Linked DNA regions of Homo sapiens. The protein of the gene in region 2 interacts with the protein of the main gene of each other region in a pairwise test. Each region holds a gene or a part of one and is shown on either strand. Other genes may lie near its edges.

Region 1 (16,267 bases), on a different chromosome or scaffold from region 2:
CCATGCCCGGCTAATTTTTTGTATTTTAGTAGAGACGGGGTTTCACCATGTTGCCCAGGCTGGTCTCAAACTCCTGAGCTCAGGCAATCTGCCTGCCTCAGCCTCCCAAAGTGCTGGGATTACAGTCGTGAGCCACCATGCCTGGCCTGGAGCTGTCATCTTCTATGATAACAATGCCTTCTAGAATAATTCTTACAGGACCTGCCTGAGGCTGTTTTACAGTTAACTTTTTTTACAGTTAACTTTTTTTAATAAGTAGGAGGAATATACTCTAAATAATAATTATAAAAAGTATAATAATACATAAACCAGTGACATAGTCATTTATTATCTTTAGCAAGTATTATGTACTGTACATAATTTTATGTGCTATACTTTTATATGACTGGCAGCACAATAGGTTTGTTTACACTGCGATCACAAAAACATGTAATATGTTGTGCCACAACGTCACTAGGCAATAGGAATATTTTCAGCTCCATTATAATCTTATTGCACCACTGTCATACATGGTCTTTCATAGACTGAAATGCTGTTATGTGGTGCACGACTGTACAAGGTCTTGTGTGGACATGTTTGTAATTCTCTTAAATACCTGGAAGTGGAATCATTGAATCATATGGTAACTCTAGGTTTAATGCTTTGAGAAACGGCCAAACTGCTTCCAAAGCAGTTGCATCATTTTACATTTCTCCAATTTCTCCATATTCTTGCCAACACTATTGCTGTCCACCTTTATTATAGCCACACTAGTGGTATCTCATTGTGGTCTTGATTTGCCTTTCCCTGATAACTAATAATGTAAGCAACTTTTCATGTTGCTTAAAAAAATACATCGTACATTTGTATAAAAATATTTTTTTTCTTTTTAAACTATTTACACTCAAACACATATAATTAGGCTAGGCCTACACAAGGTCAGGATCATCAATACCACTGTCTTTCTCCTCCACATCTTGTCCTGGAAGACAAGCCCCTACTGGAAGTGGCTTTGTATAGCTTTTTTGGGAAACGTCTATTTAATTCCTTTGTCCATTTTTAAATTGGGTTATCTTTTTATTAAGTTGTAAGAGTTTTTAATATATTCTGAATACAAGTCCCTTATATATGATTTGCAAATATTTTCTCCCATTTTGTGGTCGTCTTTTCACTTCCTTGATAGTATCCTTTGAAACACAAGAGTTTTTAACTTTGATGAAGTCCAATTTATCTATACTTTATTGCTTGTGCATATCTAAAATAAACCATTCCCTAATCCAAGCTCATGAAGAGTTACACCCGTATTTTCTTATAAGAGTTTTTCATTTTTAGCTCTTACATTTAGCTGTCTGATCCATTTTGAGTTAATTTTTGTGTATGGTATGAGGTGGATGTACACATTTATTCTTTTTTTTTTGAGATGGAGTCTCGCTCTGTCGCCCAGGAAGGAGTGCAGTGGCGCGATCTCGGCTCACTGCAAGCTCCACCTCCAGGTTTCATGCCATTCTCCTGCCTCAGACTCCTGAGTAGCTGGGACTACAGGCGCCCACCACCATGCCCGGCTAATTTTTTGTATTTTGAGTAGAGACGGGGTTTCACCATGTTAGCCAGGATGGTCTTGATCTCCTGACCTCGTGATCCACCCGCCTTGGCCTCCCAAAGTACTGGGATTACAGGCATGAGCCACTGTGCCCGGCCTTGTTTATTAGCTCTAATAGTTTTCCTGTAGATTCCTTAGGTTTTCTATATACGAGATCATGTTATCTTTGAATAGAGATAGCTTTACCTCTTCCTTTCCAATATGGATGCTTTTTCTTTTTCTCTTTTTTTTTTTCCTAATTGCTCTGCCTAAAACCCCCACTATAATGTTGATTAGAAGTTGTAAGAGTAAATATCCTTGTCTTGTTCCTGATCTTAGAGGGGAATATTCATTCCATTATCATTAAGAATGACATTAGCTGTGGGTTTTTCTATAGATGCCCTCTATCAGATTGAGGAAAGTCCCTTCTATCCCTAGTTTATTGAGTGGTTTTATCATGAAAGTTGTTGAATTTTGTCAAATATTTCTTCTGTGTCTTTGGTTATTTTTATATCCTCCATTTAGTTCCTCATTATGCTCATGTCCTTGAGTATACTTAGAATATTCTAAAAGCTTTAATTATTTTTCCTTCTAATTGCATCATCTATATCATTTCTAGGTATGTTACTATTGACCAAATTTCCTCCTTGCTCTGAGTTGTAATTTGCTGCTTCTTTACATGTCTAGTAATTTTTGACTGTATACCAAACATTGTGTTTACTATTTTGTTAAATGAGTTTTGCTGTCTTCCCATAAAGGATGTTGATGTTTGTTTTAGTAGGCAGGTAAGCTACTTATGGGTCATGTGCAAATCTTGTTTATAAGAATTTTTTAGGGTAGGTCTAGAAGAATATTTAATTTAATTTAATCCTTCTATTAAGGCAGAACTCTTCTGTTTAATGAAATATTTCTATTGTGACAAGATGGAACATGAATGTCTTCCATTCCCATATGAGCTCTTAGAATTGTCCACCTTATTGCTCCCCAGTAGTTTTTCTTTACTCAGCCCAGTGGGGTTTCCTGTCTGTATACACAGGTTCAAGTACATCCAAAGACTCAAGAGGATCTCCATCCAGATTTCCAGAGCTTTTTCTCTGTGTGGATCTGTCCTCTCAAGTACATTGTCCTGAAAATTCTAGCTAACTTGGCCTCCCTAAATTCCAATCTTTGTTTCCTCAACTCAGACCATTTTGCATTGCTTAAGTTCCTCCTCCCAGTGCTACTATCCAAAAACTATATCCAGTGAGAAGGCTTGGGCAATTAGGGCTTACCTCATTTGTTTCCCTTCTCTCAGGGATCGTGGTCCTGTACTCTCTTGTCCTCAATATCTAAAAGTAGTTTCTCATATAATTTTCTCCAGTCTTTTAGTTGTGATAGAAGGGAAAATTCCATAAAATTATTCCTCATGACGATACGTAAAAGTTCTCCACATAATATTTAAATTATCCTTTTACTTGTCTCTCTTCCACATTAGATCACAAGCTCCTTGAAAACAGGAACTATGCCTCATTCATCTTTAAATCCCAATTTCTGAACAGTGCCTGGTGTAGTATATACAGTAGATGCTCAAGAAAGCATGTTGAACAAAACTAAAATAAATCATATAATTGACTTTAAATATTTTTGATTATTCACAATGTTTCTGTCCACTAGTGTAGGTAACTGAAAGTGGACAATTCAATGAAAAGAAAATACGTTCATGTTTATCCTTCTGCTCCCTTAATAAACAAAAGTTTAAAATATAAATATAACTACATATTAATATTCAATAGAGGGAATCCAGGATACCATAACACAATATTCAACAGATTAAAAAAGATACAATATTTTATTCATTATTAATTGATTTATCAGACATTCTATCACAAGAAAATCTTTGTAAAACTTAGGCAAGAATGATGGAGAAATACTGGATTTAAGTATTTCTGAAATATATCTTTCTTAATCCTGACACTTTAGCCTAAATGAAAAAGGTAAGTCTAAAGATTAATCCTTTAAAGAAAAAAATAAAACAAATATGCCAATTTCTTATCAGGCTTATAGAACAGAAAAAAGTAAACACTGTGTTTGTGGTGATAACTTTTTTTCCTACTTGTTTATTGCCTCACTATTATTTTATTGTTATTTTTATTTACAGCTTTATTTAGGTATAATTGATGTGGCAATCACTTTTTAATTTCTTCCACGGCCTAAAACCCACAATGTTCTAATCAACAGCTAGCTTTTATGGTTATGAATATTAAACCAACTAAGACAATCAAAATTAATTTACATCTTTTAACATGTGAATTGTCTTCCTCATATGTACATTGCCAATCATTAAAGGATATTGCCAAGCAAAGAAAAGTGTCATATATTGCTTATCTCACATCTAAGAAAAATGAATTCAACAACTCGGAGAAATGAGTAAGAGGAACATTTTGAGAAAAACATTATGACAACCATTATTTTGAAGCCAAAAGTGATGAACTGTTTTATCTATGAATTACCAAATGTTTAAAATAAATATTCATTTTACAAACAGATATATTGAATATCAATTATTCCACATTTCTAGTTTCTCAGGCCAAAAACCTTAAAGTCAACCTTAACACTTATTTCTCTCATATTCCACATCAAGTCCATCTTGAAATCCTCCTTGCTACCTTCAAAACATATTTAGAACCTGAATACCACTTACCACTTCTATGCTGCATCCCTGATCCAACTGCTCATCATCTCTCATCTGGATTACAGCCACTGTCTTCTAGGTTTCCGTTTCTGCTTTTACCTCCCTTAACTGTGTTCTCAATAGCAGTCAAAGTAATCCTATTCAAATGTGAGACCCTTCGCTCTTTTGCTTAAGTCCTCCAATGGCTTCTCATCTCACTTCAGTAAAAGTCTTTAGAATGACCCACAAGGTTTTAAATCTGGATTCCTGTCACCTCTCTGATCTCATGACCTCTCCTTTAACTCTAAATGCCTTAGGCTCTGCTCTTTCTCAAAAAATGATTAGGCACAATCTCCCTTCAGGTGATTTGCATCAGCTATTCCTTCTCTGTGAAATGATATTCCCCCAGGTATTCACTTGTTTGATTCCCTTACCTCTTTCAGGTCTTATTCAAAACTCGCCTTATTAATGAGGCTTTCCCTGGACATCTATGTAAAACTGTACCACACACCCCACTGCAACCCCACCCCTTATCTATCTATCCCTCTTCCCTCCCTTATTTTTCTCCACTCCCTCCCTCTCTCATACTGGAATGTAGGCTCCATGGGGGCAGGGATTTTTTTCTTCTTTTCTTGGTCACTACAGTAACACCAGGTCCTATAACAATGCCTGATACACAAAAAGTGCACAAGTATTACTGAATGAGTGAACAAACTAAGCACATTTCAGAAATACATTTGTAAGCAAATGTAGTTCCTCTCTCTGTGAAAATTTATACTTTAGTGGAAGAAACAGACAGGAATCAAATAATCATACAAGTGTGTAATTACAATGCTTTGAAGAAAAAGCACAGAGGGCAATGAGAGAATATAACCAGAAGAGCTGACCTAATATGGAATTGGGAGGGTGGAGTATCACAGAAGGATTTCCTGAAGATGTAACATTTGAGCTGAGATCAGAAGAATGAAAAAGTTAACTAGATCACCAGTCCCCAACCTTTTTTGGCACCAGGGACTGTTTTTGTGGAAGACAATTTTTCCATGGACCACGGGAGGGAGAGGAGTGGCTTCAGGATGGTTCAATTGCATTACATTTATTGTGCACTTTATTTCTATTTTTATTACATTGTTATCTATAATGAAATAATCACACAACTCACCATAATGTAGAATCAGTGGGATCCCTGAGCTTGTTTTCCTGCAACAAGACCGTCCCATCTGGGGGTGACGGGAGACAGTGGCAAATCATCAGCCATTAGATTCTCATAAGGAGCATGCAATCTACATCCCTCACATGCACAGTTCACGAGAGGGTTTATGTTCGAGAATCTAATAACTGCTGCTGATCTGATAGGAGGCAGAGCTCAGGTGGTAATGTGAGTGATGGGGAGTTGCTGTAAATACAGATGAAGCTTTGCTCACTCACCCGCCACTCACCTCCTGCTATGTGGCTTACTTCTTAACAGGCCACGGACCAGTACTGGCCCAGGGGTTGGGGACCCACAAACTAGATAAAGGATTAAAAAAGTATTCCAAATAGAACACAGTCAACGGTCCTGAGGCAGGAGGAAGCAGGGTACAATCTAGGAACACAAAAGAGGGCAGCATGCCTTTAGCACAAAGAAGCTGCTGGGTGAGGCTGGAAGGTGGAGAGGCACTAGATGCTGCAGGGATGGCAAAACAGGTTGGAAAGCTTGGTTTGCCATATTTAAACAGAACATAACCTAAGAGGCTTAATACAATAGTACAGTATTAATAATATCTTTTTTAAAAATGGATGTTCACATTTTGGCAATCTCAAGGAGTAAGAATAGGCTCCAATCCTGTGGTTAAAAAATAATAAATCAAAGATAATATCTGGCAGTGGGAAAAAAACACTGAGTAGCAGAAAATAGTATAAATATAAAAATAGCTATGAAGTTAAAAATGGAGATTATTCAAAACCCAATGAAACTGGCTGACTAATCATAGTTATGGGCTAAAAGCTCAGTGGGCAAGGTCAGAATGAAGGAAGAAAGAGGAGAAAAGTCAAATGCCAGAAAATAACAGATGTGGTGGCACGAATTAGAAGTGGGAATGGAAGAGCAAACACTGACAGGTAAGAAGACAAATGGAAGCTAAACTGCTCTGGGAAGTCAACAGCTCTAATATCTGCTTAAAATTTGAACAACTTCTTTCTCCACCACCACCACCACCAAGAAGAGTTGCCACAAACCGTTTCATAGGTTAATTCTTTTGAACCCTGAAGGAATAGATAATTATAGTACGTACATTTTTCCAAGCAGAGAAAGAAAAAAGCGTCAGTATGCTTTTTGTGAAATCAACATAATACACACACAAAGATGAATCTCACATATACTGATGCAAAAATCTTAAAGAAGATGTTATCAAATAAAATTCAGTAATACATTAGAAGACTAAGAGTGCACAGCTAAGTAAGGTTAGTGATAGGATATATATAAATAAAATTTATTACATCAATAGATTACAGTTGGAAATATGAATGTCTCAAAAAGGAGATGTAGTGGGAGGGAGGGAAGAATGGTGGAGGATGCAACTAAACATAGAAAACCCAGTGAAATCAAGTTGTATCAGCTTCAACTAATGACAATTTTGTCTTTGTTTTCCAATATTTACTGTGTTTCTAATTTTACTGGCTGATACTTTTAGAACACTGTTATATAATAGTGATGATATTGGATACCCTCCCTTATTACTAACTTTTATGGAAATACTTCTAGAGTTTCATTGTTAATCATGATGTCAGAGTGAAGCTCTCCCTCTCCTTCTTCCTCTCCTTTCACCTCTCCTCCACCATTTTTCCCTCCTTCCCTCTACATCGCCTTTTTAAAAACAATCATATGCTTTTCCAACTGTAATCTATTAATGTAATGAATTTTATTAATAGATATCCCATTTCTGCTCTTCCTTCTGCTCAACTCCTTACAATTTGGCTTTTGCCCTGCTTATTACCTCAATCTGCTCCCTTTCCTGAAGGCCACCAATGACCTCTGATTGCTGCTTCTTAGTCCTTATTCTAGTTGACAGCTCAGCAGCAATCAACATGGGTTGATCATGCCTTCAAATACTCTCTCCCTAGGTGATGTCAACTCCACTCAGTAACGTGTTCTGCCCATCTTTCATGAAGCCGTCTTAGACTCTTCACTCAAGTTTTTGAAAATCCTGAGGTTCTGCAGGGTACTGTCCATTTTCTTTCAATACATTCTCTCTAGGTGAGTCCCAAAATTTAATAGCTCTAGCCCAGAACTATCTCTGAGCTCTTGACTTAAATTACAACTATCTAATTGACATCTACACTCAAATCTCTCACTTGGCTAATCAGTATCATTCTTCAGACCTCACTCTGAAGGCAACTTGTTCAGGGAAATCTTCCTTAACTTCCTAGTCCAGTTTAAGTCTACTTATATATGTTCTCATATCATCTTGTGCTTCTCCTTTTGAAGCAGTCATCAATTTATTATTATCTCATTCATACTGTTGGGGCCAGCACATTAATCAAAATAAAGTCCCTGCTATTAAAAAGATTAAAGTTTTATATGAAAATGTTATGAAATACCTAGAAACAGACTTTCTGAAAGAATAAAAAATCAACAATATCAGGTACTCTGAAAACAAATCTTTTAAAATAAATCCATATTTCTAGAAAAAGAGAACTAAACTAGAGGGCTCCAATAGCATCTGTGATATCAGGGACTTTTTTTTTTCTTAATTTTAAAGAGGAATAATTTACATAAAGTATATTCATTTAGAGCATACAATTTCATGACTTTTGACAGTCACTGACACCTATGAAACACCCACAGGCAAGAAACTGTACATTTCTATCAACCCAAAAGATTATTTGTGACCCTTCACAGTTCATTCATTTTGACCCAGGCAACCATTGATCTGCTTGCCATGGCTTTACGTTAGTTTGCATGTGTCTAGCTTCTTTTAATCATCATATTATTTTGAAATAGGTCCATGTAGTGCATCAGTAGAATTAGTCATTTTTATTGCCAAGTATTCCGTTGCATAGATATGTCAATTTTGTTTAACCATTTACTTCCTTTTTTTTTTTTTTTTTTTTGAGACGAAGTCTCACTCTGTCACCCAGGCTGGAGTGCAATGGCGCGATCTTGGCTCACTGCAACCTCCGCCTCCTGGGTTCAAGCCATTCTTCTGCCTCAGCCTCCTGAGTAGCTGGGATTACAGGTGCCCGACACCACGCCCGGCTAATTTTTTGGTTTTAGTAGAGACGGGGTTTCACTATGTTGGCCAGGCTGGTCTTGAACTCCTGACCTTGTGATCCGCCCACCTCGGCCTCCGAAACCATTCACTTCTTAACGGACATTTAAGTTATGTTCAATTTTTGACTACTGTGAATAAAACTGCCAAAACGTTAGGATATAGGTTTCATCTCTCTGGAGTATCTCATTGTGGAGTGGCTGGGCTGTATGGTAAATGTACATTTAGCTTGTTAAGAAACTGCAAAACAATTTTCTAAAGTGATTGTACCATTAATTTTACATTCCCATCACTACCATATGAGTATCAGATGCTCCACATTCTCAGCAACGTTTGGTATGGTCAGTCTTTTTAACTTTAATTAAGTGGATATACAGTGATATATCACTGCCGTTTTAATTTGTATTTTCCAAATGACTAAAGATATTGAGTATCTTTTCACATGTTCATTGGCCATTAGTACTCTATTGTGAAGTTCAACTTTTTTCCCTTTTATAATTGGCTTTTTGCCTTTCTTATTTTTTAAGTTGTTAGAGTTCATTATGTTCTGGATAACAGTACATTGGAAGATATATTTAATGCAAATATTCTCTCCAAGACTGTTGTCTGTCTTCTAATTTTCTTAAGTGTCTTTTCAATTTATTTTAAATCTGTTTTTCTTTTTACGGTTCATGATTCTTGTGTCCCATCTAAGAAATCATTGCCTATTCCAAGATGGAAAAGATTTTCTCCTATGTTTTCTTCTAGGAAATTCATAATTTTAGCTTTTGTGTCTAGGTGTATGCCTATTTTGAGTTAATTTATAATACGGTGTGAAGAGTTAAGGATCATTGTTTTGCAATGGATGTCCAATTCTTCTAGCACCACTTATTGAAAATACTTTCCTTTTCCCACTGAACTGCCTTTCCATCTTTGTTGAAAACCAGTTGACAATATGCATTTCTATTTCTGGACTCTTCTGTTCCAGCTATTTATATGCCTATTTTTAAGGCAGTGACACATTATCTTGATTACTATAGAATTTGAGTAAATTTTGAAATCACAGAATATAAATCCTTAAATTTTATTCTTTTTAAAATTGTTTTGATTTTGTAAGTCATTTGTATTTCCATATACAAAGGCATTGTTCTCATAGAAGATGATAGCTCCATGTCCCTGAAGACCTTCCAGTGGGACAAGATGTAGAGGTGGAAGACAGTGATATTGTGATACTGACTCTGTGTAAGCCTAATGTGCATGTTTGTGTTTTAGGTTTTTTTTTTTTTTTTTAGTTTCAAGTAAAAAAATAATTTCTAAGATAGAAGAAAGTTGTAGAATAAGGATACAAAGAAAAAAATTTTTTGTATATTCATACAACATGTGTTTTAAACTAAGTGTTATTAGAAGAGTCAAAAATAATAAAAGGTTTATAAAGTAAAAAAGTTACAGTAAGCTGAAGTTAATGTTAATTTACTTTGGAAGAAAAATTCTTTTTACAAACTTAGTGTAGCCTAAATACACAGTGTTTATAAAGTTTACAGTAGCATACAGTAATGTTCTAGGCCTCCACATTCACACACCATTCACTCACTGACTCGCCCAGAGCAACTTCCAGCTCTACAAGCTCCATTCATGGTAAATACCCTATAAAGGTGCCCTATAGAGATTTTTAAAATCATTTATACTGTATTTTTGCTGTACCTTTTCTAGATTTATATATGTTTAGGTAGACAAATACTTGCCATTGTGTTCCAACTGCCTACAGTCTTCAGTATAGTAACATTGAGTACAGGCTTACAGCCTAGGAGCAATAGGCTATACCATATAGCCCAGGTGTGTAATAGGTTATCCCATCCAGGTTTGTGTAAGTACAATCTATGATGTTCACACGATGATACTGACTAAGAATGCATTTCTCAGAACATATCCCCATTATTAAAGTGATGCATGATTGCAAATGGATTCAAGTGTATCATTTTATTATTAGTTTTCTGTCTGTTCTGTGTTTTTGTTCCCCTCTTTCCCTTTCCCACTTTCTTTCAGATTAAATGTGTATTTTAATTTCTATATTGTCCTTTTAGCTATTTGTTTTTGGATTATTTCCTTAATGGTTGTTCTGGAATTAAAATAAACAACTTTGGTAGCCTTACTACAAGATGCCCTCCCTGTCTTCATTCTCACCACTAAGAAATGTCTTGAGGGTAAAGAAAAAAATCCAATATTCTTAAGAAATCATAAAGACTAAATCTAGCATGTGAATTAAAAAGCCTTTCCTAAAACCTCAGAAAAATCCAAGGTGATGCCTCAGAGAACCATTCAGTCAAAGTATAGGGCCAAGAAGTTTAAGAATATTGTCTCAGTAGTTTTAGCAAAAGGCCAAAGTATAAAAGGGCTTATCTCAAAGAAATTTGTAGTTGTGGCTTTTCCCTAATGAAGTGAGCCTCAGTAGGATTCACGTGAGACCCACAAAGTTTTTAAGAGCACTGTATTTACATGAACACAGTGAGCTTGGACTGAAATGGACAGAGGCAGTAAAAAAAAGGAATGATACGCAACTTTTACAGAATGGAAGCAGGCACAGGACAATTGCAAATGCAAGCTATCTTTTATATATATTTTTTTAAAAAAAAAAAAAAAAACGAATGATCAGAGAAGGGAAATAGGAGCACAGAGAGTAGTGTCAAGAGTCATGGGGAATCATTCCCAGGAGGGAGGATGACTGAGTCCTAATCAAGGAATGTCCAATACTTGCCTGGCTCAATTTCAGAATTGCTATATAACAATGACTCCAGTTTTTCTGCTTTCTGAACAGAAGTATCACTAGTGATTATCCTATGCCTATCTCACCATAGTATATTGGGAATATGAAGGGCAACTGTTTCTTTGGCTGAGGTCTTCAGATCAAGAGGACATGTACTCAAGGAGTTACATAAGCAACTACATCCAAGGAGCCTCATGTGCAATTGAACCTAGTTTAGATGAGGAAATACTGGACATTAAGCTAATGCTATAATAGAATCTCTGAAGTTTGAAAACTGATTTATCCTTGACTTTCCCTACTTGGCAACTGCTTTAATTCAGGATCTTATCAAAGATTGCAATAACCCACATACTAGTTGTATTAGTCCATTCTTGCACTACTATAAAGAACTACCCGAGACTGGGTAATTTATTAAAAAAGAAGAAGAAGAAGAAGAGAGATTTACTTAGCTCATGGTTCTGGAAGCTATAGAGGGAGCATGGCTGGGGAGGCCTCAGAAAACTTAAAATCGTGGTGGAAGGCAGAGGGGAAGCAGGAACATCTTACATGGCCAGAGCAGGAAGAACAGAGAGAAGCAGGAGGTGCTACATACTTTTAAACAACCAAATCTCATGATAACTCACTCAATGTCATGAGAATAGCACCAAAGGGGAAACCTGCCCCCATGAGCCAATCACCTCCCACCAGGCCCAACCTCCAACATTAAGGATTACAATTTGACACGACATTTGCATGGGGACACAGACCCAAACCTTCACTAGTGTTCCTGAAATAAAACTCTCTCCACTCCACTGTGTAAACTTATTCCTAGCTTCTCCTGGATTGTTAGAGGATTAGGGCACCAATCCTAACCCCTACTGTAGCTTCCATCACAATGTGCTGTAAATGTCTGCTTACATATTTTCTTCCTCCACTTTTTATTGTTATATCTTCAAGACCTAGAACAGTGCCTATCACATAACAGATATTTATTTATTAAATGAATGACCAAATGTTCATGTCACATGTACTTCTAAATCATTTGAAACTGCTCACAATAGAAGATACATCTTCATTAAATCAATAAAAGTAAAAGAATCGCTATGCAATAACCCAATTTGCTCATGAAAAAGTTAAATTTTTGGAAAATTCATTCATTCAAAATAAGTTATTTTCATTAATGCAAGACAAATGAGGTGATATTTATTCATACCACTTTTCAACATGTTTGCTTGGTTTTCTAAGTCAGATATTTCAATCTTGACATTTTCTTTCATCAAAAGCTCTCTTTTCTTTGTTATTTCATAATCATTATTAAAGTCTGTAATTTCCTTAATAAATTTGTCTTCCTCCTCTATCATTTGTTTCTTTATAGCCTCCTGAAAAACATAAATAAAAGATCAAATATAGGTGTTAGTTGCAATAATATTTTTCCTTAATTATTTAAAATATAATAATTTGGAATTATTAACAATGAAAGTATATAGTTACACTTCCTGGTTTTATGGCAAAAATGTTTTTTTCTCATAGTAATATTAATAAAAAACTGAAGCTATTATATAGTAACAACTATCTTCAGATGAAAGATTTAATCTTAAAGTTTTGGGAGAATTATTGAGGTAGATATTCTACCACTCATCATTATATCTGTTTATTTGTGTATTAAAATTCAGAATCATATTACATTTTATAATTATAATATAAAACTGGAGAGTAAAGTAATTAAATGGCCAAACTGAAAAACTAAAATTTACACTTAAAGGGATTACTGCCTTACAGGAAAACAAACAAACAAACAAGGATAGCCAAGAAAACCTTTTAAAATGTGGATGATGAAATCAAAATTATATATTCACTTCAAAATCAGTTTTAAATAATAGTTTACATTTTATGAAGTATCAACATGGCAGAGAAATAAGAATTTCCAAAAACTGTGGACAATGCAAAAACCTAAACTCTTTGACAATGCTAGAATATAAACATTACCATATTTTTCTAAGCTATGTCAATGAATTTTAAGCCTCATTTTCAAACTGGCCACGTCATTTCAAACCACCAAGTGTGTTGGTTCTGACTTCAGATATGTATTTTTAATATCTTTAAATGTATTTTCTTTAAAATGTCAATCACAAGTCATATTTCTAAATTGGCCCTGTCATTCAAAACTATTGCTCAGGCTGTTGGCTCTGAGTTAACAGAAAAAGATTAACAATATCCATCCTTTTAGCCACATCCATAAATATGCCTAAAGTGTGAAACTTTCTGCCTTTCAAAACGATTTTATCCAAGGTCTCAATGCTTGAGCAATTCAAATCAGTTCCACTGTTTCTTTTGTGCTTATTACAACTGAAAATAATTGCTATATTACATCCCTGCCCATATACTTCTTTCAAACTGTATTACTCTACCAATTGGTTTTAAATAGCACTTAATACTTTCCTGTATCTGAGCAGTACTACCTGCTAATATGCACATGGATAATTTTCTAAAAGTATACTTAAGTATATTTGAATACTTTTTTACATATTAGTGAAATAGATTTTTCTAGGTGGCTGGAAACTTACAAAGGTTTGAAGAAGCATATTCCTATGGTTTGTAATTTCACTGTACTGTTTTTCTAAAGCATTTTCATGAGCTTTCAAAAGCTGTAAGAAGAAGGATTTTTCAAAAAACTGTTGAACCTTCAAAGTACAAAAACAGAAATCAGAATAAAACAATTAATTAGACATTTTAGAGTACCTTAGGTAACAGAGAAGATTTGTCTAGTATAAAATATATTCTGTATTAATCTTTAAAATGCAAAATAAAATTAGCATCAAACATCTTATTTTATATACACTATCTTGTATTATTTTTTAAGTACTTTATAGTTACAATTTTATAATCTCTTCCCCTAATAAGACTATAGGCTCCTCAAGGGCAGAGAATGTGCTTTCTTTTTCCTCTCAATACCTAGAAGAATTCTTAGCTAGGTACTAACGCTTTTTGAATACACACATTGAAATCTGCTTTAAGACTGTTTGTTTTTAGATAATAAGTTTCTATTTTCACAGTTTATAAGGAATATATGAATGAATAAATCATGTACATAATATAACTAATAAAATAATAAGATAAAATCTGCAAAGCAGAGGCAAAAACCCAGTCCCATGATTATAGTTATATCAAATAAAAAACGAGTCTGCTAAAGACCTTAAATGGGTTTTGAGAACTCATTTTTTATTTTAATACTTCATTTGGTTCTAAGTAGCAAAAGGTATAATAAACATTAATGTTAGACATGCAACTGTTATTTCATTTGGAACTTAAAAAATAACATCTCCTGAGATGAATATTGAAATGAAGTTAGGAAGCTTTAATATATGAAAGCTAAAAATGATGCTGGACTGGAAATACTGTAATTTTTCTACTATGTTCAGTACTAGCCCTCATAAGAAAGCATCGTTTCCAGTTTGGGGCTGTTCCCATCTCCACAGGGAAAAGAAAAAGGATATAAATTCAACTTAAATTGCAGAAAGCAAGATTTATGGTAGTTATAAGAACTTCCTCAAGGTGAGAGACAGGTTGTGAAATCTCTGTCCCAGACAATATTGAATAGTAAAGAGCTTAGAAATAGTCTAGTCCAGAGGCAAAAGGGTTGGCTTAAGAGACAGTTTGAAATATTATGGCTAAAATGTCCTAGAAATATTGACATTAAAAAAGTTGCTCAAATTTTCAAAACCAGAAAATATGATCTTACATTTATATAAGATCGTAGCCCATCTGCCCATATCTTCAGTACTTGGTACTGTTTTCATCAACCCAATTTTAAGAAAGGCATCAATAGAGAAAGATTAGAGAGGTACAATTCACATAATCAAAGGAACTGAGATAATATTTTAGAGATTGGGGGAAGGAATAATAGGGTGGTTAGTATTTTTCTGTCTCAGAAGACAGAAATTAGAAAACATATGGCCAAATCTATAAAATCATATAGAAATTTATAACAAGGGGAAACTAGGGTATGATCATGAAATCTACCACATTTATTCAGAATAAAAAATATTTTGTGACTATTTAATGCTTATTATGTAAATGATAATAAAATGAGGTCCAGAGAAGTTAAACACCTTAACAAAGGCTATATAACTAATTAGAGGCAAATCCAGGACTAAAATTCAGGTCTTCTGCCTTTCTTTCTTCTAAATCATGATGTGAGCATGGAAATGTCAGAACTATTTCAAAGTAATGAAAAGATAATTCTAGAGCTAAAAAGAGACTTTGAGGTGTGATGGTGAGTTGAAAATATATAAGGTTAATAAACATTTAAGGAAATTACCAAATCCTAGATCCACCAGAGCTTACTGAGAAGGGTGTTTGCAGTATATACCTAACTCTGAGTTACTGCTGTGGACACTGCCCAGGAATGTCCACAAAAAATGCTTTAGAGACCAAATAATGCACTGGATAAATGTGGGTTTAATCTACTAAGGTATTTCAAGTATTATGCCCTTCAGAAACGCAATTCATGAATTCTAAGTCCATGTATACCACTGATCTGTTGTAAAAGATCTATGTCAAACCCAAAACTCAAAAATGAGGAAAATATTACTTATCAAACTAACGGATTTCTAAATGAGACTTAAGCAAATCTATTATTCAAATTCAGGAAAGCCTTATGTTAAGGACTCAGAAATTAAGGTGCTATCTTTCAGCTATCAATGACTAAGAGCTTAAATTACCACTGAGCCCACGTCTTCTTTCTTAAAAGGGAGAATAACCAATATTAAGAAGAGCTAGGTGACATATTGGCACTTAACCAGAATATTTCACCATTACCTAAAAAATGAAATCTATATCCCAAAAACTAAAAAGTAGACAGCTGTTCTAAAGATTTATAAAAAGGGCATATCCATAATTTTCCTCTTCCCTAAAATTTTATGTAAATCATCCATTTTAAGTTCTCTGCTTCTTTGTTTTTATTTTTATTATTAGTTTATCTCCTCTTCATTCCCTTTCTGTCTTACCTTCTGTCTTTATTGTTTACTTCCATATTTGTCTCTTTTAATCCAGATCTAAAGAGTCCCAGAGAGTCAATAACTACAGAAAGATTA
Region 2 (16,267 bases):
TGTCTTGGAACTTTTGCCAAACATCAACTGACTACAAAACACAAGGGTTTATTTCTGGACTTTTATTTCGCTTATCTTTATGCCTGTCTTATAATTGTAGTTTTGCCCTAAGTTTTGATATCCGAGTGAGTACTCCAAATATGTTATTTATCAAGATTATTTTGGCTACTCTGGGTCCACATAAATTTTAAGATCAACTTGTCAATTTTTGCAAAAAGGTATCTGGGAGTGGAGGTTTTTGTTTTTTTGAATTTGTTGAATTTGCAGATTAACTTGGCAGGGGCAGTATTACAATCTTAAGACTTAGTATCAAGTCCTCTGACTCATAAAATAAAGCTTTGCATTTCTTTTTCTTTTTTTTTTTTTTTTGTTTTAAACTTAAGAACACTGAAAAATGAAAAAACAAAAACAAAAACAAAAAACAAAATAGAGACAAGGTCTTGTTCTGTTGCCCATGCTGGAGTATAGTGGTGCAATCATAGCTCACTGTAGCCTCAAACTCCTGGGCTCAAGTGATCCTCTTGCCTCAGCCTCTCAAGTAGTTATGAGGTGGATGCCACCACACCTGGCTAATTTTTAAAAATTTTTTGTAGAGATGGGGTCTCACTATATTGCCCAGGCTGGTTTTGAACTCCTGGCCTCAAGCACTCCTGCCTCAAGCTCCAAAGCGCTGGGATTACAGGAGTGAGCCACAGCATTGGGCCAATGGGTTTTCTTATACACAATGAGTAGTTTTTTTTTCTGTTTTCAAGATTTTTTTCTTTCATTGTTTTCACTATAGTTTTGGTATGCATCTTTCTATGTTATCTTACAACTTGATCTTGGATTAATGTTTTCATCAAATATTTGATTTTCAGGCATCATTTCTTCCAATAATTTGCTGATTCTTTCTACTGTGAACACAATCTACTGTAGAGCTCCTCTAATGAATTTTTCATTACAGTTACTTTACTTTTGAACTCTAGAATTTCTATTTGGCCCTTTTATTTATTTTATTTTATATATTTTTTGAGATGGAGTCTCACTCTGTCGCCCAGGCTGGAGTGCAGTGGCGCAATCTCGGCTCACTGCAAGCTCCGCCTCCCGGGTTCACGCCATTCTCCTGCCTCAGCCTCCCCAGTAGGTGGGACTACAGGCGCCCGCCACCACGCCCGGCTAATTTTTTGTATTTTTAGTAGAGACGGGGTTTCACGGTGTTAGCCAGGACGGTCTCGATCTCCCGACCTCGTGATCCGCCCGCCTTGGCCTCCCAAAGTGCTGGGATTACAGGCGTGAGCTACCGCGCCCAGCCTATTTGGCCCTTTTAAATTCCTTTCTTTGTTGATATTCTGTTTGATGGAATATTGTAAGCATACCTTCCTTTACTTCCAGCAGTTTCCTTTAGTTTTTTTTGGAACACACTTATAATAATGCTTTGAAGTTTTTATCTGCTTCCAACCTATTGACCCTCTCAGTTTCCTTTGATTGCTTTTTCGCTCCTTGTATGGATTAGTTTCCTGTTCTTCTGTATGTCTTGTAGTTTGTTGTTGAGGACTGGATATTTTAGACACTGTGTCACAGCAGCTCTGGATAGTAATTTCCCTCCAACCCCTACCCTCTGCCCTCCAGCGCATTTCTTCTTGTTTAGTTTCTTGGCTGGATGATTTCAGTTAAGTCCACTTACCCTGAAGTATGCAGGCTCTGATGTCCCTCCTCAGAGTACAGTCTGGGCGTGTGCAGTCACCATGACTACTCCCTCTAGCCCCAAGGACAGTGGTTTTGATAGGGCTCTCTTTTACCTTTTCCTGATCTTTCGGGAAAGGTTCTAGTTAGTTAGAACCTCTTTTGTTATCACATCCTACTATTAGCACCCACTAATTTACTAGCTAACCACTCATTTTTTTTTTCATTTTTTATAGAGACAGGGTCTCACTATGTTGCCGAGGCTGGTCTTGTACTCCTGGCTTCAAGTGGTCCTCCCGCCTCCGCATCCCAAAGTACTGGTATTACAGGCATGAGCCACCACACCTGGCCACTCTTTTGTTTCTGACAATGCTCTGGGGCACAAGTCGCCGCAGTTTAATCCAGTTAAATTCAGGCCCCTGTAGAGTATCTTTGAGGCTTGTCTTAAACCTAGGACTAATAACAGCTGCCTCTATTTTTTTGAGACAGGGTCTCACTCCGTCACCCAGGCTGGGGTGGAGTGGTGTGATCTTGGCCCACTACAACCTCTGCCTCTCGCGTTCAAGCGATTCCCATGACTCAGCCTCCTGAATAGCTGGAATTACAGGCACGTGCCATGATGCCTGGCTAATTTTTAAACTTTTAGTAGAGACAGGGTTTCAGCATGTTGGCCAGGCTGGTCTTGAACTCCTAACCTCAAGTGATCTGCCCGCCTTGGCCTCCCCAAGTGCTGGGATTACAGGTGTGAGCCACCGTGCCAGGCTCTTTCTGTTGAGCTTGTTGGCATTCCCTTTTGCTTGTTGCCATCAGGGAGCTGTCAATACGCTCTTAATTGCTCCCCTCCCCAGATCCAACGTATTTGGTGGCACCTTTACACTTCAACATCTTCCCTCATTCTATTCTAGTCAGTCCCTTTATTAAATATTTTTAGTAGAGACGGGGTTTCACCAAGTTAGCGAGAATGGTCTTGATCTCTTGACCTTGTGATCCACCCACCTCGGCCTCCCAAAGTGCTGGGATTATAGGCGTGAGGCACCGTGCCCGGCCCAGAGCTGTTTTTATGACTTGCCATTTCCACTGGACAGAACCTCTGTTCTGCTGCTCCAGAGCTACGGGTGGGGACAGTGGCCTGCTTTTCTAGGAGTTATACTCACAGTCTACAAGGGGGAAAGGGGTGATATAACCCCTGGTCTCCTCCAAGTGCATCTCCTTGCATGGAACCTTCACTCTACGTACGAGTAAAGAGCCTTCATCCTATGAGTAAGCTGGGGCAAAAGCAACTAAGGCCCAGTATTCTCAGTCTGATATTCCTGGGTTAGAGTTTCTGTGCTGTAAGTGGGGACTAGGTGGAGGAAGGAGTGCCAAACCTCTTGGCTACTCTTGCTTGCAAAAGGGCTTCTGCAACACAGAGCTTCAGGGAATGAGGCATGCTAATAATCTACTCTTCCAGAGGAGAAACTGTAGTCCAGGATTGGGAACTGGAGAGAGGGAATGGGGTCATGGCTCCAATGCCACAGACTCCCTATTCTAAAAGATTGACTTTCTTGAAAAACTGTTTTTGTTGGATGTATGCTTTTATGACAATTTCCACATAAACTTCCAGTTACAGGTATTTTATTGAGCAGAGACAGTGAAGTTCCTTATGCTGTTATTTCAAAAGTGTTTCCTGGTTTCTTTTTAATGAATGTCTTAAAATACAAGCAATCAGGACCCTTTAAATAAGGCAGTATGTTCACAAATCAAAATAGCTTTCTGCTGGCATCAGTTGATTCAACATCAACATGCAGTGTCCAGAATGAATAAGCAGTTCTTTAATGGTTATTTAAATATATTCCAGAAGAGCGTTTATAATTCATTTACAAGTGCAGTATTGCGCTAGTAAATGTTACTTGACCTCTTGTATAAATAATGCCGATTAAGAATTAGTCCTGGAATAGTTTTCGAATTTCTAACTCTGTAGATCTAAAACACAATTGTAAATGGTATAAAGATGTAAGAATCATATTGTGATAAAGTCAATCTCAAAAATAGAGAATCCAGACCCTTCCCAGATAATTTAAGAACTGAGTTTTCCTCAACTTAAACATGATGGCCACACAGAAAACAGTAAAGACACTTTTCGATGTGATACAACTGTATAAAACTCGAGAATATGAGTATTTAGGTGACCAATGTATAGACATTAATAGAATTTTAAAAACACATTTAAATCTGAAGCAGAAAAAAAAAGACAATTTACAAAGAATTATTGAGCTCTAATCATCATCAGAGTCTGAATCATATTTCTTTCCTCGGATAGTTTTCTTTTCCAGCTTTGTGAAGTTTGTTCCAAATTTCTTTTGGTTCTGAAATGGTGGCTCCATTAAATTTCCACTTAAAAAAAAAAAAAAGCATTTTATTCTTTATGATTTAGTACTAGTATACTAAACTGCACAAAAATCTATCTTTGTTTTCTTCCTGTAACATAGAATAAAATTTCTTTAAAATGCTGGTGTCAGGGAAGAGGTATAATGCTTATATTGATATTGATGGTTAATAGCCTTAAACCTTATTGTGTCCTACTGAATGTTTTAGATCAATTTTATTTTCCTTTCTTTTTGAGACAGGGTCTCACTCTGTGGCCCAGGCTGATGTGCAGTGGTGTGATCACAGCTCACTGCAACCTCCAGTTCCTGGGCTCAAGCGATCCTCCCACCTCAGCCTCCCGAGTAGCTTGGACTACAGGCGTGTGCCACCATGCTCAGTTAATTTTTACATTTTTTGTAGTGATGACATCTCACTACATTGCCCAGGCTTGTCTTGAACTCTTAGGCTCAAGCAATCCTCCTGCTTTGGCATCCCAAAGTGCTGGGATTATAGGTATGAGCCACTGCACCAGACCTATTTTCCTTTTTATCATTAATTATGGATTAACATTTGGTTAACACAGTGCTCAGTTGTCACCGGAAATGAGAGAAACCATCACACACCTCCCGATATGATGCATCACTTCCATAATATGCCCGTCAAAAATCGATAATCTGAATCTAATCTTGAGGAAATTTAAGACAAACCCAAACTGGGAGATGTTCTCCAAAATAAACAGTTTGTACTCTTCAAAAACATCAGTCTTAAGAACCAAAGAATAACAATGGTAACTAAAGACGTAATAACTAAATGTGCTGCATTTTTGGTATGAAGGACAATTATTGGGACAATGAGAAAACTTGAAATAAGAGCGGTAAATTACACAATAATTCCTGTTTCAATAATTGTACTGTCGCTACGTAAGAAAATGTTCTTGTTCTTAGAAAATATATATGGAAGTCTTTAGGAGTAAAGGGACACTGTATTCACAATTTCCACTCAAATGGTTCCCAAAATACTTCATAGTATCTATAAAGACAATGATAAAACAAATATAAAATGTTTAAAATTGGGTAATATGGGCAAAGGGTCAATGAGGATTCGTTGTACTAGTCTGCAGGGGGTTGTTTCTACTAGTTTTTTGTAGAGACGAGGTCTCATCTCACTATATGTTGCCCAAATTGGTCTCAAACTCCTGGCCTCAACTGATTCTCCCACCTCAGCCTCTCAAAGTCTGTAATCTTCTGAGATTACACAAGTGCCCCACCCGGCTGCAATTTGTTTAAGGCTTAAAATTACTTCAAAATATATAACTTTATTTAATAAATATTAATATTTTATGTTAATATTAAGGAAATGAAACCAATTTCTACAACATAGGAATGATTTCGGCATGTCTAGGAGAGTCAGAGAAAAGACGGGAGGGAAATGGGGGAGAAAGAAAAACGTGAGAGAACCTTCTACTTCCTGAAAGGCACCATGACTCTGGAATGGTAAGTGCACAATTTTACCTGTTACTTTTGCAAATCAAGAAAAGGCAAAAAAGACAAGATGATATGCTCTGATTTGTGGAATTAGATAAATTATTTGTCTGAAGAAGTGGACAAAGAAATGGAAGTTGGATTTTAGATTGTTTTCAAACTAAAACTGTTCTTCATAGCAAGCAATGTAAGCTAGGCATAGAAACCTTTTTCTATTCATCAGCCTCTATAAGTAAAACAGAAATATCCATGTTAAAAATCTAGTATTTTAAAATATAACTTTCTTTGCAAGAGTCTGCTTTTAATTTTTATTTTATCAAAGAGAATCACTTAAGTCAGAATTCATTTGAGCAATCTGGCTTAAATTGGGGAATAGTCAACACTGGATTGCCATTTTAAGTTTCCAGATTAATACAAAATTAGTGTCAATAGTATACGTTAAGCTGAAAACTTTTATAGTCAGGAGTACGGTGAGACTCAGTTTTACCTATTAAATCAGTTTAATCTGTAAATCTGATTTTGCCGTAAAATCACGCTAATATTACACACTTCAAAAAAACATGCTTTTCCTTTGAGAAACTTTCCACATCTCAGCCAAAATGCCTTAATTTCATAAAATAAATGTTACAATACAAAAATCTTTTGTAAAAATATCAACTATATATGAATTAAAATCAATCTCTTCTTTTGTTAAAAGTTACCTGTAATTAAGAATGTCAGAAGAACCGAGCCTCCATTCTAAAGTTTCTGTGGTGAAGTCATCTGTATTTCCTAGGTCAGTAAACCCAACAACATAATCTTGTGTTTTCCCATCTTTTAGCAGTGCTAGTGTGGGAATGACTTTGATATGCAGTCTCTCACAAAGGAAAGGTGCTTTTTCCACATTCAGCTTCAAAAATTTGGTCTCGAGGTGTTTCTTGGACAATATTGCCAGATGTCTGTCTAGTATTTTACACCTGTAAGTGACCACACATAGAAAATTATAAGCTAAAACCACAGATCGCTTTTTTCAAAATAAATATCATCAAGGGAAATCTAATTATGTAGTTTTTCTGTTGACTCTCATAACATGGCAGCCAACTTAAACTTGTGTCAGATGACCTCACTTCCAGATCAGAGGTTAGCTGCCTGATTACGAGATGGGAAAACAGCCTATAAGATTCTAGAAAGTCAGATTTGCATTAATGATATTCTCTTTTAAAATATTAAATATATGCTTTAAGTCATAAAGGAAGTTGTCCTATCTCCTACACAGGAAACTTGAAGAGGAACAAACTGAAACTTGACAAAACTCGGAAGAGACTTACAAGAATCAGAAGTGCACACATGGTGCCATATTTGGAAGTCATGAAGAAAAACTGAACAGCATTACCGAGGAAAAACTTCTTACTCCTAAATATGCAACGCTGTCAGTAAGAAGCACATTAAGGCTAAGGGTTACTAATAATATTTAAATAAATGTGGCCATTATGCTTCTAGGAAATTAAAAAATACCAGTAGTAACTTTTTTATTTTTTATTTTTTTGGAGGTGGCGTATTGCCCTGTCCCCCAGGCTGGAGTGCAGTGGCACAAGCTCGGCTCACTGCAAGCTCCGCCTCCCTGGTTCATGCCATTCTCCTGCCTCAGCCTCCCAAGTAGCTGGGACTACAGGCGCCTGCCACCATGCCCGGCTAATTTTTTGTATTTTTAGTAGAGACGGGGTTTCACTGTGTTAGCCAGGATGGTCTTGATCTCCTGACCTTGTGATCCGCCTGCCTCGGCCTCCCGAAGTGCTAGGATTACAAGCGTGAGCCACTGCACCCAGCCTACCAGTAGTAACTTTTATTAAGCCATCTTCCAATGAAGACGGAAACAGAAGTGAGATTTTCTTGGCCAGGTGCGGTGGCTCACATCTGTAATCTTGGCACTTTGGGAGGCTGAGGCAGGCGGATCACTTGAAGTCAGTAGTTTGAGACCAGCTTAGCCAACACGGTGAAACCCTGTCTCTACTAAAAATACAAAAATTAGCTGGGTGTGGTGGTGCATGCCTGTAGTCCCAGCTACTTGGGAGGCTGAGGCAGGAGAATCACTTGAACCTGGGAGGTGGAGGCTGCAGTGAGCCGAAACTGTGCCGTTGTACTCCAACCTGGGCAACATAGTGAGACTCCATCTCAACAAACAAAAAAAGTGACATCTTCTTTACATTAAAATTTATTTTCTGGCCTGATGCAGTGGCTCACGCCTGTAATCCCAACACTTTGGGAGGCTGAGGCGGGCAGATCACTTGAGGCCAAGAGTTCAAGACCAGCCTGGTCAATATGGTGAAACCCCATCTCTACTAAAAATACAAAAATTAGCTGGGCGTCATGATGGGCACCTGAAATCCCAGCTACACAGGAGGCTGAGGCACGAGAATCACTTGAACCTGGGAGGTGGGGGTTACAGTGAGCTAAGATTACACCACTGCACTCCAGGCTAGGCGACAGAGTAAGACTCTGTCTCAAAAAATTCATTTTCAACTGGCCAATTCACGAGTGTTTCTAAAACAGACTATTGTAACAATCTTTTAGACCGGTGGTTCTTAACCCCAGGTGTTCATTATGATCAACTTTTATTTATTCATCTTTTTTGAGTTGGACTCTCACTCTGTCACCCAGGCTGCAGTGCAGTGGCGCGATCTCGGCTCACTGTAATCTCTGCCTCCTGGGTTCAATCGATTCTCCTTCCTCAGCCTCCCGAGTAGCTGGGATTACAGGCACCTGCCACCACGCCCGGCTAATTTTTGTATTTTTAGTAGCGATGGGGTTTCACCATGTTGACTAGGCTGGTCTTGAACTGCTGACCTCAAGCAATCCACCTGCCTCAGCCTCCCAAAGTGCTGGGATTAGAGGTGTGAGCTACCACACCCAGCCTGCCGTCAACTTTTAAAATATCCAGATGAATCAAAATTCTCTGGCAGTGGAGTTGGGAAACATACAGCTGTTCTTATGCTCAAATAAAGCTTGAGAACTACCTCTAGATGACTCACACACAAAATACTTCATGGTTATTTTTACCAGTAAGCTTTTTGTGCACTTGATGTAGTTTTTCCTGAACTAAGTTTGGCTCTAACATAAGTTATGTGTAACCTTGGTGCCTCATCACTTTTTCCCCGGATATGTTTTTTCATATGTTACTCATGTAGTTCAGTAACGAGATTTCAGTGAAAAATGGTAAGAGAGAACAAATTAATAAATGGTTTTTAAATAAAGCTCAAAACAAATGATAAATCAACCTTTATATGAGAAATATGTTCCTGAAAATTTGTAAATAAATCAACTCCATACTTTAACTGCAGTAAGGAACGTATTTTTTTTTTGAGATGGAGTCTCGCTCTGTCGCCCAGGCTAGAGTGCAGTGGCACGACCTCTGCTCACTGCAACCTCCACCTCCTGGGTTCAAGCAATTCTCCTGGCTCAGCCTCCTAAGAAGCTAGGATTACAGGCACCCGCACCATTGCCTGGCTAATTTTAATTTGTATTTAAAGAGCAAGACAGAGTGTCTTGCTCTGTTGCCAGGCTGGAGTGCAGTGGCACGATCTCAGCTCAATGCAACCTCCGCCTCCCAGGTTCAAGCAATTCCCCTGCCTCAGCCTCCTGCACAACTGGGACTACAGGCACGAGCCACCATGCCCAGCTAACTTTTTGTATTTTAGTAGAGATGGGTTTTCACCATGTTGGCCAGGATGGCCTTGATCTCCTGACCTCATGATCCACCTGCCTCAGCCTCCCAAAGTACTGGGATTACAGGCATGAGCCATGGCGCCCAACCCGTCAATCAATTTTTAAAAATCCAAAACAACAGTCATGGTATAAATAGCTATAGGCCTTTACGTATGTTTAAAAATAACTAAAAGAGCATAATTAGATTGTTTATAACACAAAGGATAAAAGCTTGAGGTGATGGATATTCCATTTACCCTGATGTGATTATTAAACACTGCATGCCTGTGTTAAAATATCTCATGTACCCCATATTTACCTACTACTACCCACAAAAGTTAAAAATTAAAAAAATAGCAATAGGCTTAAAACATGGGTTCCAATCTCTCTCTTTTTTTTATCATTTAGTATCTGAGTGATACTAGGTGAGTCAATTTCTCCAAATCTTGGTTTCCATACATGAAATACAGGAATAATAATAAGTGCCTCTGAAGATTATTGTGAATGTTCTAGGGATAATATACATGAAAGCATCCTGCCTACTATGTGCTAGGAACTTTGCTAATATATAAAGTTCACTGGATGATTTTGATTTTTCAGTTCTGTTTGAAGGTGAGTACTCCTGGTGATGCACTGTTTATACACCATCAAATGTATTTATTGACCACCTACTATGCGTCAGGCAGTTGCTTTAGGGCTATGATCCCAGAGAACAGTAGGTCACAATACAGGCAAATGCGCTGCCTCTACAAAACGAACAATCTAGTTGGGAAAGACATAAAAAAAACAAGTGAGGCCGGGTGCCGTGGCTCATACTTGTAATCCCAACACTTTGGGAGGCCAAGGTGGGTGGTTCACCTGAGGTCAAGAGTTTGAGACCAGCCTGGCCAATCTGGAGAAACCCTGTCTCTACTAAAAAGACAAAAGTTAGCCGGGTGTAGTGGTGGGTGACTGTAGCCCTGGCTACTCGGGAGGCTGAGGCAGGAGAATCACTTGAACCCGGGAGGTGGAGGTTGGAGTGAGCCAAGATCCTGCCATTGCACTCTAGCCTGGGTGACAGTGTAAGACTCTGTCTCAAAAACAAAAAAAAACAACAAAAAAAAAACAAGTGGACAAATAATATTTTACATACTAGTATATTTATATATCACCTCATCATATTTGTCAGAGGTTGGCAACTTGAGGAATGTGTGCCAATGCGAGATGGTTGTGTACCATAAGGGCAGAGGTTTCTCTGATACCTTTCTACCTGCCTAATCCCTTCTCTCACTGTTCCTCACAAGGGATTTCACCATCTCAATATTTTGTTTCATTTTTATTCTCTTAGTCAATGAATACCAGGCAATCAATTCTTGAAAGGTGTTAACTAACAATGAAGCTGTTGGGTTGTGAGATCAAGACAAAGGGGCAAGAAGGCCACAGAAATGAGAAAGAGAGCAGGGCTGAAACCACAGTGAGTGCCAGAGACTCTAGAGCACAGTGCTTGTCTGTCCTGGGTAGGCAGGTGCCAGTCAGCAGATGACTGCCATCATAGTTCCAGCTATGCTATTAGCAAGTTTTCTGATTTTTTAAAGAAAAATTCTAAGTGTGGATATTTTCAAAAGGAGTTATCTCTCGATTTTTAAGTGTTGGCAACTAATCAAATCTGTGCACAAAAAACCACAAAGGCTTGGGTCCTTTGGTTTACGATGTGACCTCTTCTGAGGAGGTATTAACATTTTATAAGAGATCTGCTTCCTTAGAGAAATTTGGAGACCTAGGGTGGTCTAAGAAAAATCACTTCTCCTTCTAGCCAAGACTGGCAGTCCCAACTCTGCTCTGGTGAAAGGTTTGGCCAAGCCACCATCTCCCCACCACAGTTGCTAGTTCCTTCAAGGAGGAACTGAAGGAACACTGACTCTCAACAGCTGTTGCCCGTTCCCAATATCATGGCTACATCACAATACTAGAGGGAAATAATTACTGTCATGGTGATAAGAATTTTAAGTGTACATTTCTAAGATGTTTTTAGTTAGCTAGTGAAAATACAATTCAAAAATATAAGCCATTTATATGGGAATATTGACTTTCAGTAATATTCATTTATACTTTTGCATGTAACTGTTCTTTAAGTTACTCTTTAAAATAACAATTAACTTTTTTTTTCTTTCTTTTTTGAGATGGAGTCTCACTCTATCGCTCGAGCTGAAGTGCAGTGTCGCGATCTCCGCTCACTGCAACCTCTGTCTCCTGGGTTCAAGCAATTCTCCCACCTCAGCCTCCCCAGTAGCTGAGACTACAGGTACCTGCCACCACACCCGGCTAATTTTGTAGTTTTAGTAGAGGCAGGGTTTCGCCATGTTGGCCAGGCTGGTCTTGAACTCCTGACCTCAAGTGATCCACCCCCCACTTGGCCTCCCAAAGTGCTGAGATTGCAGGCTTGAGTCACTGGGCCCCTGCCTGCTTAACTTAATACTAAATAACATATGAGAGAGTACAATGAAACAACTTAGGAAGTTTTTTCTTTTAGTTTTCTTCATTTCTCTAGTAAGCCAGTATATCTCCAGCCAAACAATTCACTGTGTTTTTTTAGAAAAAGTCACAGATGGAAACAAAGTTACCTGAATGTGGAGTCTCTGTAGAAATGGCAAACCACATTTTCACTCTCCTTGACTTCTTGAAAAAAGTCTCTTTCACTAGGGATTTCTCTGTATTCCCCATGTCCTTTAGAAAGCCATTCCTAATTTGGAGAGAGGCAAAACATTACACATGTGAGATATCTCTTTCAGAACCACTTGACATTTTAAGTGTCCAAATCACCATCGTATTTTGTAATGAAGTCAATTAAAAAAAAAAGTTTTTTTTTTGTTTGTTTTTGTTTTTTTTTTTTGAGACGGAGTCTTGCTCTGTCACCAGGCTGGAGGGCAGTGGCGCGATCTTGGCTCACTGCAACCTCCGCCTCCTGGGTTCAAGCAATTCTCCTGCTTCAGCCTCCCGAGTAGCTGGGACTACAGGCGGGCACCAGTATGTCCAGCTACTTTTTGTATTTTTAGCAGAGATGGGTTTTCACCATGTTGGCCAGGATGGTCTCGATCTCTTGACCTTGTGATCCGCCTGCCTCGGCTTCCCAAAGTGCTGGGATTATAGGTGTGAGCCACCGCGCCCGGCCCAAAAGTGTTATTTATTTATTTTTTTTTTGAGAATGGGTCTTGCTAAAGTTGCCCAGGATGGAGTGTGGTGGCATGATCATAGCTCACTGCAGCCTCAAACCTCCTGGGCTCAAGAGATCCTCCTACGTCAGTCTCCCAAGGAATTGGGACCACTGGCGCATGCCACACCACGCCTGGCATTTTTTTTTTTTTTTTTTGGTAGAGACGGGGTTTTTACTATATCGCCCAGGCTGGTGTCAAACTCCTCGGTTCAAGCAATCCTCCCACCTTGTCCTCCAAAAGTGCTGGGGTTATAGGCATGAGCCACTGTGCCTGGCTGAAGTCAAAGAAAAATGAATGTTTTTTAGCAATTTACTTTCCTGTTTCTACTGTCAATGCAAAACTAGTCTACGGACAGTGAACGTCTCCACAGCATGGCCTGGGTTCAAGACAATTACCTGTCTTTGTAGCTTAAAACATCTATTTTCTCAGAACTTTCAAAATAAAAATTTAGACTTGAGAGACTCAGAATGTAAATATCCACTTAACTCTATCCATGTACTCTTAAACTACTAAAACCAGAAGCATTTGATCCAAGTTACTACAAGTCTTTTAAAAATAATGCTCATGAGGCTGGGTGCAGTGGCTGATGCCTGTAATCCCAGCACCTTGGGAGGCTGAGGCGGCTGGATCACCTGAGGTCAGGAGTTCCAGACTAGCCTCGCCAACATGGTGAAACCCCGTCTCTACTTAAAAAAAAAAAAAAAATACAAGAAATTACCTAGCTGTGGTGGTAGGCGCCTGTAATCCCAGCTACTTGGGAGGCTGAGGCAGGAGAATTGCTTGAACCCAGGAGGCAGAGGTTGCAGTGAGCTGAGATCACGCCACTGCCTGGGCAACAGAGTGAGACTCTGTCTCAAAAATAAATAAAAATAAAAATAATGCTTATGAGATAAACCCAATTCGTCTTGGGGAGAAAAGGAGGATACTGCAGCTCTGAAGCTCAAGAGCCCTGTCTGCTTTTGATAACCACTTTATAAATGCTTAAAAAGTCTCTATACCTGCACTAATTGTTAGAAAGGTCATCTCACACTGAACTGCAATATATCCATAATTCTGGTCTGTGGATTCCAGCTTGGATAAAGATTAAAGTTTTAATCTCTTTCCCACGTGGGCCCTTCAAACATCACATATTGCCTAAGTTTTCCCTTCTCCACACTGAACACTTCCAGTTCCTTTTAACTGTTCTCATATGAAAAGATTTCTAGAGTTCCTACTCTTCCAGGATATCAACTAAACACACTCTAATTCACCAATGTCTTCTTAAAATGTGACAGAGGTCTGAATCCAGCCTCCAGAAGGGGTCCAACCAAAGAGCCAGGAGGGCCATCTCCCTTCCTCCTCTGGACGTCAGTGAACGTGGCCCAGACTATATTGATGACTGCGGTGTCAAAATCACATCCATTTACATCGAGCTGACACTTGCAGGATACCCTGATATTTTCTTATGTGAAATTTCTACACACAGTTTAACTCTCAAATACAATTCCCTAATGACATATGACATTTCATGACTGCTTTCACAACTTACCAATGATATGTGCCCTTAAAAAGTATTTGTTAGGCTGGACGCAGTGGCTCACACCTGTAATCTCAGCACTTTGGGAGGCTGAGGCAGGTGGATCACTTGAGGACAGGAGTTTGAGAACAGCCTGGGCAACACGGCGAAACCCTGTCTCTACAAAAAATATGAAAATTAGCCAGGTGTGTTGGCACACACCTGTAATCCCAGCTCCTCGGGGGCTGAGGCACAATAATTGCTTGAACTCCGAAGGCGGAGGTTGCAGTGAGCCAAGATCACACCACTGCACTCCAGCCTGGGTGACAGAGCAAGACCCTGTCTCAAAAAAAAAAGTATTTGTCTTTTAAAAAGCTGCTATTTCTAGGCCGGGCGCAGTGGCTCACGCCTGTAATACTAGCACTTTGGGAGGCTGAGGTGGGCGGATCACCTGAGGTCAGGAGTTCAAGACCAGCCTGGCCAACATGGCGAAACCCCACCTCTACTAAAAATACAAAAATTAGCCGGGCATGGTGGCAGGCGTCTGTAATCCCAGCTACTTGGGAGGCTGAGGCAGAAGAATTGCTTGATCCTGGGAGGTGGAGGTTGCAGTGAGCCGAGATTGTGCCACTGCACTCCAGCCGGGGCAACAGAGCAAGACTCTTATCTCAAAAAAAAAAAAAAAAAAAAAAAAAAAAAGCTGCTATTTCTTTTCATTATTTATTCTCAGGTATTTAACCAAGAGGCTGAAGACCCGAACCTGTCCTGGGCTCCTTTGAGGGAGGATGTGCCCATTCCAAACCTCTACCAATGCTCAGGGCCTCTCCTGACACATTCACTACACCCCTGTGCTCTTAGCATAGCCCCTTTTGGACAGCATGTGCTCCTAAGGTATCTGCAGAACAGAATCAAGCAGGATGGGCCTACCTGAGGCATGGCAGCTGGGCAGCACCTGGCTGTCAGTGGCTGTCACCCAAGCCTCTGCTTAACTCCTATTTCTTACCTTATCCCTCTATTCTGCTCCCTACCTAAGTGTGCCAGCTCTAGTTAACAGTAGGAGGGTGCTTGGCTGACAGAAGAATATAGATTCACCTAGGTCTATTAAGTGCCGACTGTAAGTCAATGCATACAATGATCTCCCCAATACCCTCGTGGATCAGAAAATCAAAATTACTGCATAATCTAATTACTGTATAATCTCTTATAAAAAGAATATCTATACAAATCACTAGGTTTCTTGACTATTTCCAGAAAATATTTTAATAAAAGACCTACTAAAATGCAGTGAAAGTTCTAAAATAAGACCCTCTGAATTACTCGATGACAAATTCATTTTAAATTGATTTATACATTAATAATAAAAAAGGCTTATAGCCAGTCTGCCTTAGTTGGTTTTAATTATATTCAGACCACTGTTTTGAACTGCCAAAAAGTTCCTTTAAGACATTATTTAACGTATGTTCATCACTGCAAATCAGGTGAATTCAGTCTCTCTACAAAAATATCCTAGTTACAAATAATTATTTTTAGTTGCACATTAGCAATTAGTACTTAAATGTGACTATGAAATATGAGTTTGTGGCAGAACCTAAACATATATTACCTTAAATTCCAATAATCCGTCCTTTGCATACTAATTATCAGCCCTATACTATGAAAAGAAGCCAATTGGGCCTGGTGTGGGGTGGCTCACACCTGTAATCCCAGCACTTTGGGAGGCTGAGGCAGGCGGATCATTTGAGGTCGGAATTTGAGACCAGCCTGACCAACATGATGAAACCCCATCTCTACTAAAGTACAAAAATCAGCTGGGCATGGTGGCAGGCACCTGTAATCCCAGCTACTTGAGAGGTCAAGGCAGGATGGGCAACAGAGTGAGACTCCCTCTCAAAAAAAAAAAAAAAAAGAAAGAAAAGAAAAAGAAAAGCAGCCTATTTTTTAAAATACGGTAGGGTACAGGTAAAAGCCATATAACGTACTCTATTTTAGAAACTCAAAATATAAAAATTTGGACTCACTTATAAAAGATTATTTCCTTTTGTAGTAACTCTTCTAAACATGAGGGTGTAAACATATCAAAGTGATGCTACAGCAATACAAACAAAACTCCTTCTCTTTTTTTGTGGGGGAACTGGGTCTTGCTCTATCATCCAGGCTGGAGTGCAGTAGCACAATCTCGACTCACGGCAACCTCCACCTCCCGGGTTCAAGAGATTCTCCTGCCTCAGCCTCCTGAGTAGCTGGGACTACAGGTGTGCGCCACCACACCTGGCTAATTTTTGTATTTTTTGTAGAGACAGGGTTTCACCATGTTGGCCAGGCTGGTATTGAACTCCCGACCTCAGGTTGTCCGCTCACCTTGGACTCCCAAAGTGTTGGGATTACAGATGTGAACCACCATGCCCGGTCAA

Evidence for each region.
Region 1: the proteins of TXNDC9 (region 2) and CCDC172 interact in binary tests that used the Homo sapiens proteins (3 or more experiments, as listed by UniProt).

What each region holds. Positions count from the first base shown.
Region 1 is NC_000010.11:116,338,322-116,354,588, reverse strand, and holds part of CCDC172 (coiled-coil domain-containing protein 172), read right to left. Parts: intron 13,856-16,267; coding exon 13,739-13,855; intron 12,554-13,738; coding exon 12,388-12,553; intron 1-12,387.
Region 2 is NC_000002.12:99,315,765-99,332,031, forward strand, and holds the end of TXNDC9 (thioredoxin domain-containing protein 9), read right to left. Parts: intron 11,890-16,267; coding exon 11,771-11,889; intron 6,446-11,770; coding exon 6,191-6,445; intron 6,020-6,190; exon of another isoform or gene 5,362-6,019; intron 4,036-5,361; coding exon 3,918-4,035; 3' UTR 3,218-3,917; downstream 1-3,217. UniProt on the Homo sapiens protein: Significantly diminishes the chaperonin TCP1 complex ATPase activity, thus negatively impacts protein folding, including that of actin or tubulin.